2 linked regions of the Homo sapiens genome follow. The protein of the gene in region 2 purifies or fractionates together with the protein of the main gene of each other region. This does not show direct contact. Each region holds a gene or a part of one and is shown on either strand. Other genes may lie near its edges.

The links. Proteins that work in one complex are often made in the same cells at the same time.
Region 1: the proteins of PMP22 (region 2) and MPZ purify together in Homo sapiens (affinity purification with western blotting; one study listed by BioGRID). This does not show direct contact.

Annotation. Positions count from the first base shown.
Region 1 is NC_000001.11:161,303,247-161,306,968, reverse strand, and holds the end of MPZ (myelin protein P0 isoform MPZ precursor), read left to right. Parts: intron 1-47; coding exon 48-261; intron 262-504; coding exon 505-640; intron 641-800; coding exon 801-861; intron 862-991; coding exon 992-1,093; coding exon of another isoform or gene 1,094-1,285; 3' UTR 1,286-2,234; downstream 2,235-3,722. UniProt on the Homo sapiens protein: Is an adhesion molecule necessary for normal myelination in the peripheral nervous system. It mediates adhesion between adjacent myelin wraps and ultimately drives myelin compaction.
Region 2 is NC_000017.11:15,236,710-15,242,187, reverse strand, and holds part of PMP22 (peripheral myelin protein 22), read left to right. Parts: intron 1-2,576; coding exon 2,577-2,717; intron 2,718-4,306; exon of another isoform or gene 4,307-4,403; intron 4,404-5,478. UniProt on the Homo sapiens protein: Might be involved in growth regulation, and in myelinization in the peripheral nervous system.

The sequences.
Region 1 (3,722 bases), on a different chromosome or scaffold from region 2:
GTGTTCTCATTAGGGTCCTCTCACATGCTTCCCCTCATTCCTCATAGATCTTCCACTATGCCAAGGGACAACCCTACATTGACGAGGTGGGGACCTTCAAAGAGCGCATCCAGTGGGTAGGGGACCCTCGCTGGAAGGATGGCTCCATTGTCATACACAACCTAGACTACAGTGACAATGGCACGTTCACTTGTGACGTCAAAAACCCTCCAGACATAGTGGGCAAGACCTCTCAGGTCACGCTGTATGTCTTTGAAAAAGGTGTGAGAAGGGATGGGGACAAGGGTATGGGAAGCAGTTTGGGAGGGGATCAGGGAGGACTGATAGGTTGGGGGAAGAGGCAAAAAGCCCGGCCTAAGGACCTTTATTCAGGCTCTGGGAGCGTGGGCAGAAGGCAGTTTTAGCTGGGAGTCCTACATCCTCAATGCAGGGCATACACTCGGACTAGGAACCACAGATACAGGGCCCTGCTCATTCTCCCACTTCTTTTCCCACCCCTCCTAGTGCCAACTAGGTACGGGGTCGTTCTGGGAGCTGTGATCGGGGGTGTCCTCGGGGTGGTGCTGTTGCTGCTGCTGCTTTTCTACGTGGTTCGGTACTGCTGGCTACGCAGGCAGGCGGCCCTGCAGAGGAGGCTCAGGTAAGGGGCGGAGCCTAGCTCCCCTCCCCCTCTCCCCACTATCCCCCATCTGGGCGGAGACTACTCCAGTGGGTGGGAGGGCCAAGGGGAAGAGGAAGCTGTGTCCGCGGTGCAAGGGGTTCCGGCGAGGCCAAACGTACAGCAGTCTCTCTTCTTGCAGTGCTATGGAGAAGGGGAAATTGCACAAGCCAGGAAAGGACGCGTCGAAGCGCGGGCGGCAGGTTAGCGGGACTTGGGGCCTAGACAAGATGGGAAGGAGAACCCTGGGAGCCGCCGGGCAGCAGTGAGGGGTGGGATGGGAACAGTCAAGCCCCAGTCGCTCGGTGACTGATGTGTGCGCCCCTCCCCCAGACGCCAGTGCTGTATGCAATGCTGGACCACAGCAGAAGCACCAAAGCTGTCAGTGAGAAGAAGGCCAAGGGGCTGGGGGAGTCTCGCAAGGATAAGAAATAGCGGTTAGCGGGCCGGGCGGGGGATCGGGGGTTAGGGGTGGAGTCCGCCAAAGGCCCAAAGGTGATGGTCATCGAGATGGAGCTACGAAAGGATGAGCAGAGCCCGGAGCTCCGGCCTGCTGTCAAGTCCCCCAGCAGAACCAGCCTCAAAAACGCCCTCAAGAACATGATGGGCCTGAACTCGGACAAGTGATCGCCACCCCCCCACCCCAGGCCCTGCCAGAGCAGGGGGACCTAGGCTCCTCTTACCCCCGTCTAGGTGCTTTCCCTCTTTGCTCCCCCGCCCTGCCCTGCCCTCACCTCCCTTTGAGATGTAAGTTTCATTCCAGAATTCATTCCCCAGGCAATTGTATTCTCCCCCACCTTCACCCCTGGCTTTCTGGGAGCCCAGGAGCTAATCCTACCCCTCACCTGCCCCGGGGGCTGTGTGTTTGGTGCCTGTCCACCTGAGCACTGAGAAGAAAGGGACTTTGATACCCTCTGCCTCAAGTCCAGGCCACCTGGCATTCCCATCTCCTGCATCCCCCAGCCTGTCCCCCTGGCTGTTTCCTCTCCCGTCCCTCCCTCCCCTCTACCAGGTGGCCCAGCTCCATACTCTGTCCCCCCAGCTAATACCCAGAGCACCCAGATCAGACTCTCCTTCAGGGTTTATTTAGGTTATTATTTTTTATTTTTTAATCCATTCTTTGTTTGTTTACCTGTGCTCATCCTCTGCCCTTACACCCATGACTGAGGACCAATGACGTCATGTGGCTTTTGCAATTCACGCCCCCCTTAAGTCCTTAATGAAGAGCCAGCCCAAGTAGAGGGGCCCCTGATCCTCACACTTCAGTATAGCATTGGTTCCCCCTGACCACTTTGGAGCACTGTTCTGGGACTCCAGGTCTTGAGGAGAGAGACAGAGAGAGAGAATGGATCCTCATAGGTCAGGGAGTGGGGGAGGGGGCAAATGAGCCTTAAGAAATGGTTTTTAAACAACCAAACAAAAAGCAGGAAAAACAAATGGGAAATGGGGGGGCGGGGGGGAGGAAGAGGCTGCACTGCAGCCACAGGGGATTCTTAGGATTTTTCTACATTCTGTATATTTCTTCTCAAACCTCCAAATGTCCTTAAATGTTTAATAAACACTGACATTTCCAGAAGCTGCTGCCTTGTCTAGAATTTCCTAGTCCTCCTGGGAATAATTCCTGCCCCTTATCCCATCCCCAACCTTCCATACTTGGCTTCAGTTGTTTAGTTTGTTTTTTTGGGGTGGGCTTATATAGTATACTAGAAAGAACTCTGAAATAGCCTCACAAGACACATTCATACCTTCAGCAAATAATCAGTGAGATTATACTACGTTGTAAACTCTGCCAGTCTCTGCTTTTACATGAGTTAAAACGCAGAATCTGTCTTCACCAAGATCTGAATTTTAAAACATCCCAGCCACTCTCTAGCTGTGTGATCCCCAGGACAGTTACCTGACTTTGGTAAGCTTGTTTATGTACTTGTAAACAACTGAGATAATGATATCTGCCCTGCTTAATTCCTAGGGATTTTATAATAATCAAATGAGATCCTGTGTATGGAAAACTTTGTAAACTGTAAGTTGATATACAACTAAATATTAAGGTGTTCAATATTTGTTTCTAGTGCTTGCCTAAGGTAGTACACTTTACAAATTAGCACAAATCCCATTCACCTCTCTAAACAATCACTGCTTTGTTTTGTTGGTACATGATTTTACTTCTGTTTACCTATTAATAGGTATACTATTAATACCTCATTAGCTAGTTTGTTGGTATGTTGATTTAGGTATACCATTAATATCCTGGTATCCTGAACTGATTGTGGAAAAACATATACGTATCATTTTCCCCTGGGGATTACTGATGGCACAAAAAAACCCAAAGTGCCCACAAGTAATTTCTTCCCCTTGTTAAGAAGCTAAAGATATGATTAACACCAGCTTTACCAAAACCCAGAGTGCTTCCATTTGTTTGAGGGGTGTCTTCAATGTCTTTTAAAAAAAATCAATCTGCCTTCATTTAAATATAAAAGCTAATAGAGTATATATAGCCTTTTGTTGGGGGGAAGTGGGAGAGGAAACTTAGTCACAACCCAGTAATAAAGTTGGGAATATCTTAAGCCCAAGATTCCTTATTAGTTAAGATGCTAAACTGTCCATTATTCATTAGATAGTTGCAGCTGGGTTCCCTGCTTAAACTTCCCAGACTGTCAGGAGAGTCAAATGAGGTTGGATGTGGTGGCTCATGCCTGTAATGCCAGCACTTTGGGAGGCCGAGGTGGGCAGATCACTTCAGGCTAGGAGGTTGAGGCCAGCCTGACCAACATGGCTAAACACTGTCTCCACTAAAAATACAAAAATTAGCCGAGCATGGTGGTGAACGCCTTCTAACCCTGGCTACTTGGGCAGCTGGGGCACGAGAATTGCTTGAACCGCGGAGGCGGAGGTTGCAGTGAGCCGAGATCATGCCGCTGCACTCTAGCCTGGGCAACACAGCGAGACTATGTCTCATAAAAATAAAAAAGAAAGAGAGAGAGAGAGAGTCAAATGAAATATTATGCTACTTATGAGATAGAGTATAGCTCAAAGCTTCTCATTTAATTACACTTTTGTTCTAAAA
Region 2 (5,478 bases):
TCCACCTCCTGAGTTCAAGCGATTCTCTGCCTCAACCTCCCAAGTAGCTGGGACTATAGGTGTCCACCAGCACACCTGGCCAATTTTTTTGTATTTTTCGTAGAGATGGGGTTTTGGCATGTTGGCCAGGCTGGTCTTGAACTCCTGGCCTCAAGTGATCTACCTGCCTCAGCCTCCCAAAATGTCTTAATCAAAGATAAAATTCCATATCTTATGAGTGCCTTGAACCCATTCACATATAATGTGGTTGATGATAGACTTACTATCTTAATGCATGTGTTTTATTTATTGTGCTTATGGTTGAAAACCATCTTCTTCATCTCTGGATCATCAGAGTCAACCAGAGGGCTTGGCTCAAAGCAGTAGGTATTCAACAAATGCTCATTGAATAAAAATGTCCTTGATCCTCTAATTCTGATTTGATTCGAGAAATAACTTATGGCAAAGAGCTCAATTGTAATGGGGTTGGGACTAAAATTCAAGTTAATGTTGAAAGATGTTTCAAGAAGTATTTAGGTTATATTATTAAATATTAGACACTTTCTGTTTATATAGATTTAACATATAAAGATTTTAAGTTTTCTGTGTATGTGAGGTCTCGTAGTAGTTTCTGCTGAAAATGACAGGGGCGCGGGGTTAAGGGTGAAGACAGTATCTCAGGATTGGAGAAGGAAATCTAAGATATTGTCTCCACCAGCCATACTCCTCATGAACATGCACATGGAAGGACATTTCCCAGCCAAAGTGAATCCCTTTATTTGTTTTAGTTTCAGATTTGAGTCTCAGATTTCTTTGTAATTCCAGCTGCATCTACCAAAGTGCTAGATAATTTTTTTATTTTAAGCAAACAATATTATGAGAACATTATCTTTATTGCAAAGTGCTCCTCCAGAAGAACCTCTATGCTGGATAAAGACAAACATTTGATTAAGGTTATGTAAGAGTGAAATCAGGATGGCTCACAACCCATTAGCCGTCATTTTCTTACTTTAATTGACAAAGAAATTGAAAAAATGAAAGAAGCATATGTTGTGCTTGAATGTGAAGAGTGCTAGACTAGAATCAAAGGCCTCTTAGATTTGGCTGTGTCATTTGGGCTCATGAAAACACCTCTGGAAATCTCTTTCAGTGCAAAGGAGCTGGACTAGTTGATCTCTCAGGTTTCTTCCAACTCTAAAATATCTCCAGTCTGTGCCTTGGAAACATCTTAGGTGAAAATCTAGGAACAGTTAACCTAATTTGCACCCTTAAAATTCTGCCATGAGCTGCTTACAACTCAAAACAAGTTTATCTTACTCAGTTACTAATTATAAACCATCCAGATTTCAGAGCTGTGAGTACTGGGTGAAGCATTGAAGGTATGCTTTTGAAGCCATTACATATGGCAGTTACTGAGCTGAAAGGATTAAATGCTGCAGCTTCCCCAGTTGCCCTTCCTCCATGAGAGCAGTGCCTGCCCCCAGCATTCTGTGGCACTTGGAAGACAAGACAGAGGCCAAATGCAGATTTTTACCCTGGGCTTCCCTCTACAGTGTGGAACTCAGGTTGTTTCTTCTTTCCTCCCTGAAATGACATGAGTTTGCAGCGGATGGTGAACTGAAGAAACCATAGGAGGCTCTGTCTTCTTGCCTGAATTTCAGTTGGAAGCTTGGAGATTTGGGGTTCAACAGAGATAAGGAAGTGTAAGCCTTCATCCCGTCTGGTGGTTGGCGATCACACACCGCTCTGTGCTGAGGCTAATGGCCATGATCAGAGTTGACCAAAAAAAAAAAAAAAAAAAAATACGGGTTGTCCAAGCAAATTGATTTCCATACCTATAGAGAGCATACCTTTCTTCATCAGTATTTTCTTCCATTCTTCCAAAAAATTACTTTGGGCTCTAACAGCCATTCCCGTGATCTTTACCTCTCCTTGGGGAATGCAGATAATTTGAATAGTGGTTTTAAGCTATTTTTCTTGGAATACAGAAGTTCTGATAAGCCCTTCAAAGACCCCTGAGGGCAAGAAGAGGGAAGGTAGTAGGCAGGGCTCAGGCCCTCTTTAACACAGACACATGTACATAAGTAACACATTTGCACCAACACTGGAAGGAAATTCAATATATTTTAAAATGACTTTAACTCCTAGTGATGGAACTATAGATATTTTTTTACAGCCCTTCCCTGAATGTTCACATGTGTTTTTTATATATATGTGTGTGTCACGTATTTGTATATGTGTATATACACATATATATAGAAACACGTACATATTTGTATGCATATTTGTACATATAGGTATATATGTATGTAATGTGTACATATTGGCACATGTGTGTGTTTGTATATGTATATATCAGTACATATAGATGTATGTATATATGTATATATTTTTTCCTCCAAAATAAACAATAAAGAATGTCTTCTTAGATTGCAAAAGTGAATTGTCTGAGTTCTGCTAAGGAAAAAGGACTTCTGCTTCTGCTGCCTGTGAGGACTGTGCTGTCAGCAGTCATGGCCCTTCAGGCCCTGCACCTCGAGGCAGAGCCCTCCCCCGGCCATGGCCAGCTCTCCTAACCAAGTGTCTCTTTCCCCCAGAATGGCTGCAGTCTGTCCAGGCCACCATGATCCTGTCGATCATCTTCAGCATTCTGTCTCTGTTCCTGTTCTTCTGCCAACTCTTCACCCTCACCAAGGGGGGCAGGTTTTACATCACTGGAATCTTCCAAATTCTTGCTGGTAAGTTGTGGATGGTAAAGTCCATGTGGAAGCGGGGTGCATCCAAGTCTGCGGAATGATTAGTTTAGTAGAAGGATGTGGCCTCAGAATGACTGATGTTCATGAGTCTCCCCACTGGATGCTTTCCATAAAGTGAGGGTGGGTGCTTGTATGTGTGGGTGTGTACCTGTATGTGTCTTAGAACTTGGGACTTAGAACTCTCCCCTTCTCCCTGGAATGAGATGCATATGAAAGAGAACTTAGAGGATCTGGAAGGAAGGTCCCCACCCAAGCCAGGCGTATCAACAGGAATGAAACTGCAATCTGGACACATAATCAGAGGTGAATACTGAGGCTATCTGTAGAGCAAAGGTCAGGCTTGAGAGCTGTTTCTGTAGATTACATTATGCCTCCAGAAAATGGCCCTGATGTGCTAAGAACTAGCAAAGTAGTTATCAGGTATGTGTCTTCCACCAATAGGTAGTGATGAAGCCACACTGACAAATTCTCACCTTCCTTGCTTCCAGTTCCTAGATTCTACTGGGCTTTGATTGACTGTTGTCATCCTCTGGTGTCTTCATTTTGACACTCTTGTGTCACATATTGTCATTTCCAAACATGGGGCTATGACAACACATGAAAACACATGAGAGGTCTCCTTAATCTCCTGCCTAAACTGTCTTCAAGTTCCCTCTTTAAATACGTTATTAATATGCATAGTGTGCAGAGTCCTAGAAACTTCTGTTACACAGGGTGACATCTTCCAACTTTGTCTCTGGATTCTGCCTAGCATCTTACATGCTTACATCTTACATCTTACATCTTACATCTTGCATTCTGCCTAGCATCTTACATTAGCTCTTACATGTCTGTCTGTTGACTTACTGTTGACTGAACCAGCAGGGCATTGGAGAGAAGTAAGAGCTAGATGTAGTGGTGGATTCTGTGGTCCAAATTCATAGATCACAAACTTCATATGTACCAGAGTATGTCTAGGTACTGGGAGATGTTCTCAATTCTGACCCTCTGAGAGGGCAAAGGATGTAGCATCTCTTCTCTGAGTTGGTTGTCAGAATGCCCATGGTACCATTTCACCACTCTGTCCCCAGGAGCAGTCATTGGAAGGTTGACGTAAATAGGGTTGTATGGGAAGACACAGCCCAAGGTTAGATGTTGGTGACCTTGTCTAGAAGACAGAGAGTTCCCCTTTCCTGAAAAAAGGAAGTAAATGATTAACCACTTCTCATTAAACACTCAAATACAACATTTCAATACTCATGGTTTTGAGATTTCAAAACCAGACAGTGCTTTGCTACTTACACATGTCTTATGACACCAAGCCAAGCTCCTGGATGGTTGCTGGCTCTGTTAAATGACTAATTATGCAAGGAGATATCATTTCTAGGTACGTTAAAGTGAAGAGTTACCCTTACTCAATTTTCAGTTGGAATAAAAACAACTGTAACATATTCTGGGGTTTCTTTTTTTTTTTCTCACTCGTTTTAGTTTGATATCAAATCAAATAATGATCATATCCATTGCATCAGTGGATATGCCCTCAAGATAATATGGATTTAGAACCAGAACTTTCATAATGTATTTCTATTGAAATGTTAGTTTCATAAGCGATGATTGGGTTTTCATGCCCATGTGTGAGATGTGCCTCGCTCAAACCTTGTTATGATTTGGCACGTTACCCATCTGATGTGAAAAAAATTACATTTTATTTGTACAGGCTCGTTATTTTACTGATGAATAATTTGAGCCCACCAGAGGATAAATGAATGACCAAGGTCACCCAGCTCATGACAGGGACGGTTGAGTGTTACACTGAATATAGTGAGGTACTTCTTATATTTTAAAGACAGAATGCACCAAAAAATTTAAAGAACACAAAATCCAAGGCAGAAGCTCTGCCTTTTATATTATCTTTTATTGGAACTGATTTACAATGGAAGGTAAATGCAAATTTGCACCATGTATTATTCTGAAGTTCCAAACATCTGTGATGAATACAAGCCTGTACTATAAGACCCAGTCACATTGAAAATATGGAGCTGAGAAGAGGTAAGCTGCTGTTGAATGGGCTCCTTGGGATAGCCAGTACCTTCATCTTCATTCATCCTGCTGAGCTGTTTCGGCTTTAAGTTCTTTAACAATGTCTTTTTAGCAACATCATTACATCATTTTAGGCCAAAACTCAAAGTCCAGAGATAAGAACCCTTAAGTCACTCATGTAACTGCACTGTGTGTTAAAAGTATTTCAGTTCAGCCAAACACTCTTCTCCTAGGTATTGCGATTTAAGTATATTTACTAATCCACTCTTGCTTCACTATTTTCATTCTCCTCCAAAGTCAATACAAGATGTTTAGAACTGTGCTGGAAGTGCAGAATTCCGAATGTAAAAGCGCATGACTTTGTCCTCTTTATCCCCTTTACATCTAGCTGCTTACGTCTCATGAAACTGAATTTTCAGTTATCTGTTGGTCCACATTTGAATAAGAAATTATCTTGAATTTGAAATGCTGAGCTGTAATAGCAGTTGTAATTTGTAAGTCCTGAGAGTGTCCTGTCCTCCGTTGTTAATCCCAGTCAAGATCATCTGAGAGTTGGTCTCCAGGGAACCTCAGATCTCTAGGATGTTGCACTGGAAATGGCTGCAGGATCTTTCCACTAATTCTGAGAACTGAAAGAGTTAGGAACTCTATTTGGAGAGTTCCTGGTTCCCTTATCGTGTGACAGTTCTAAGTCAATTTTGTCATGTGGTTTTCTGACTCACAG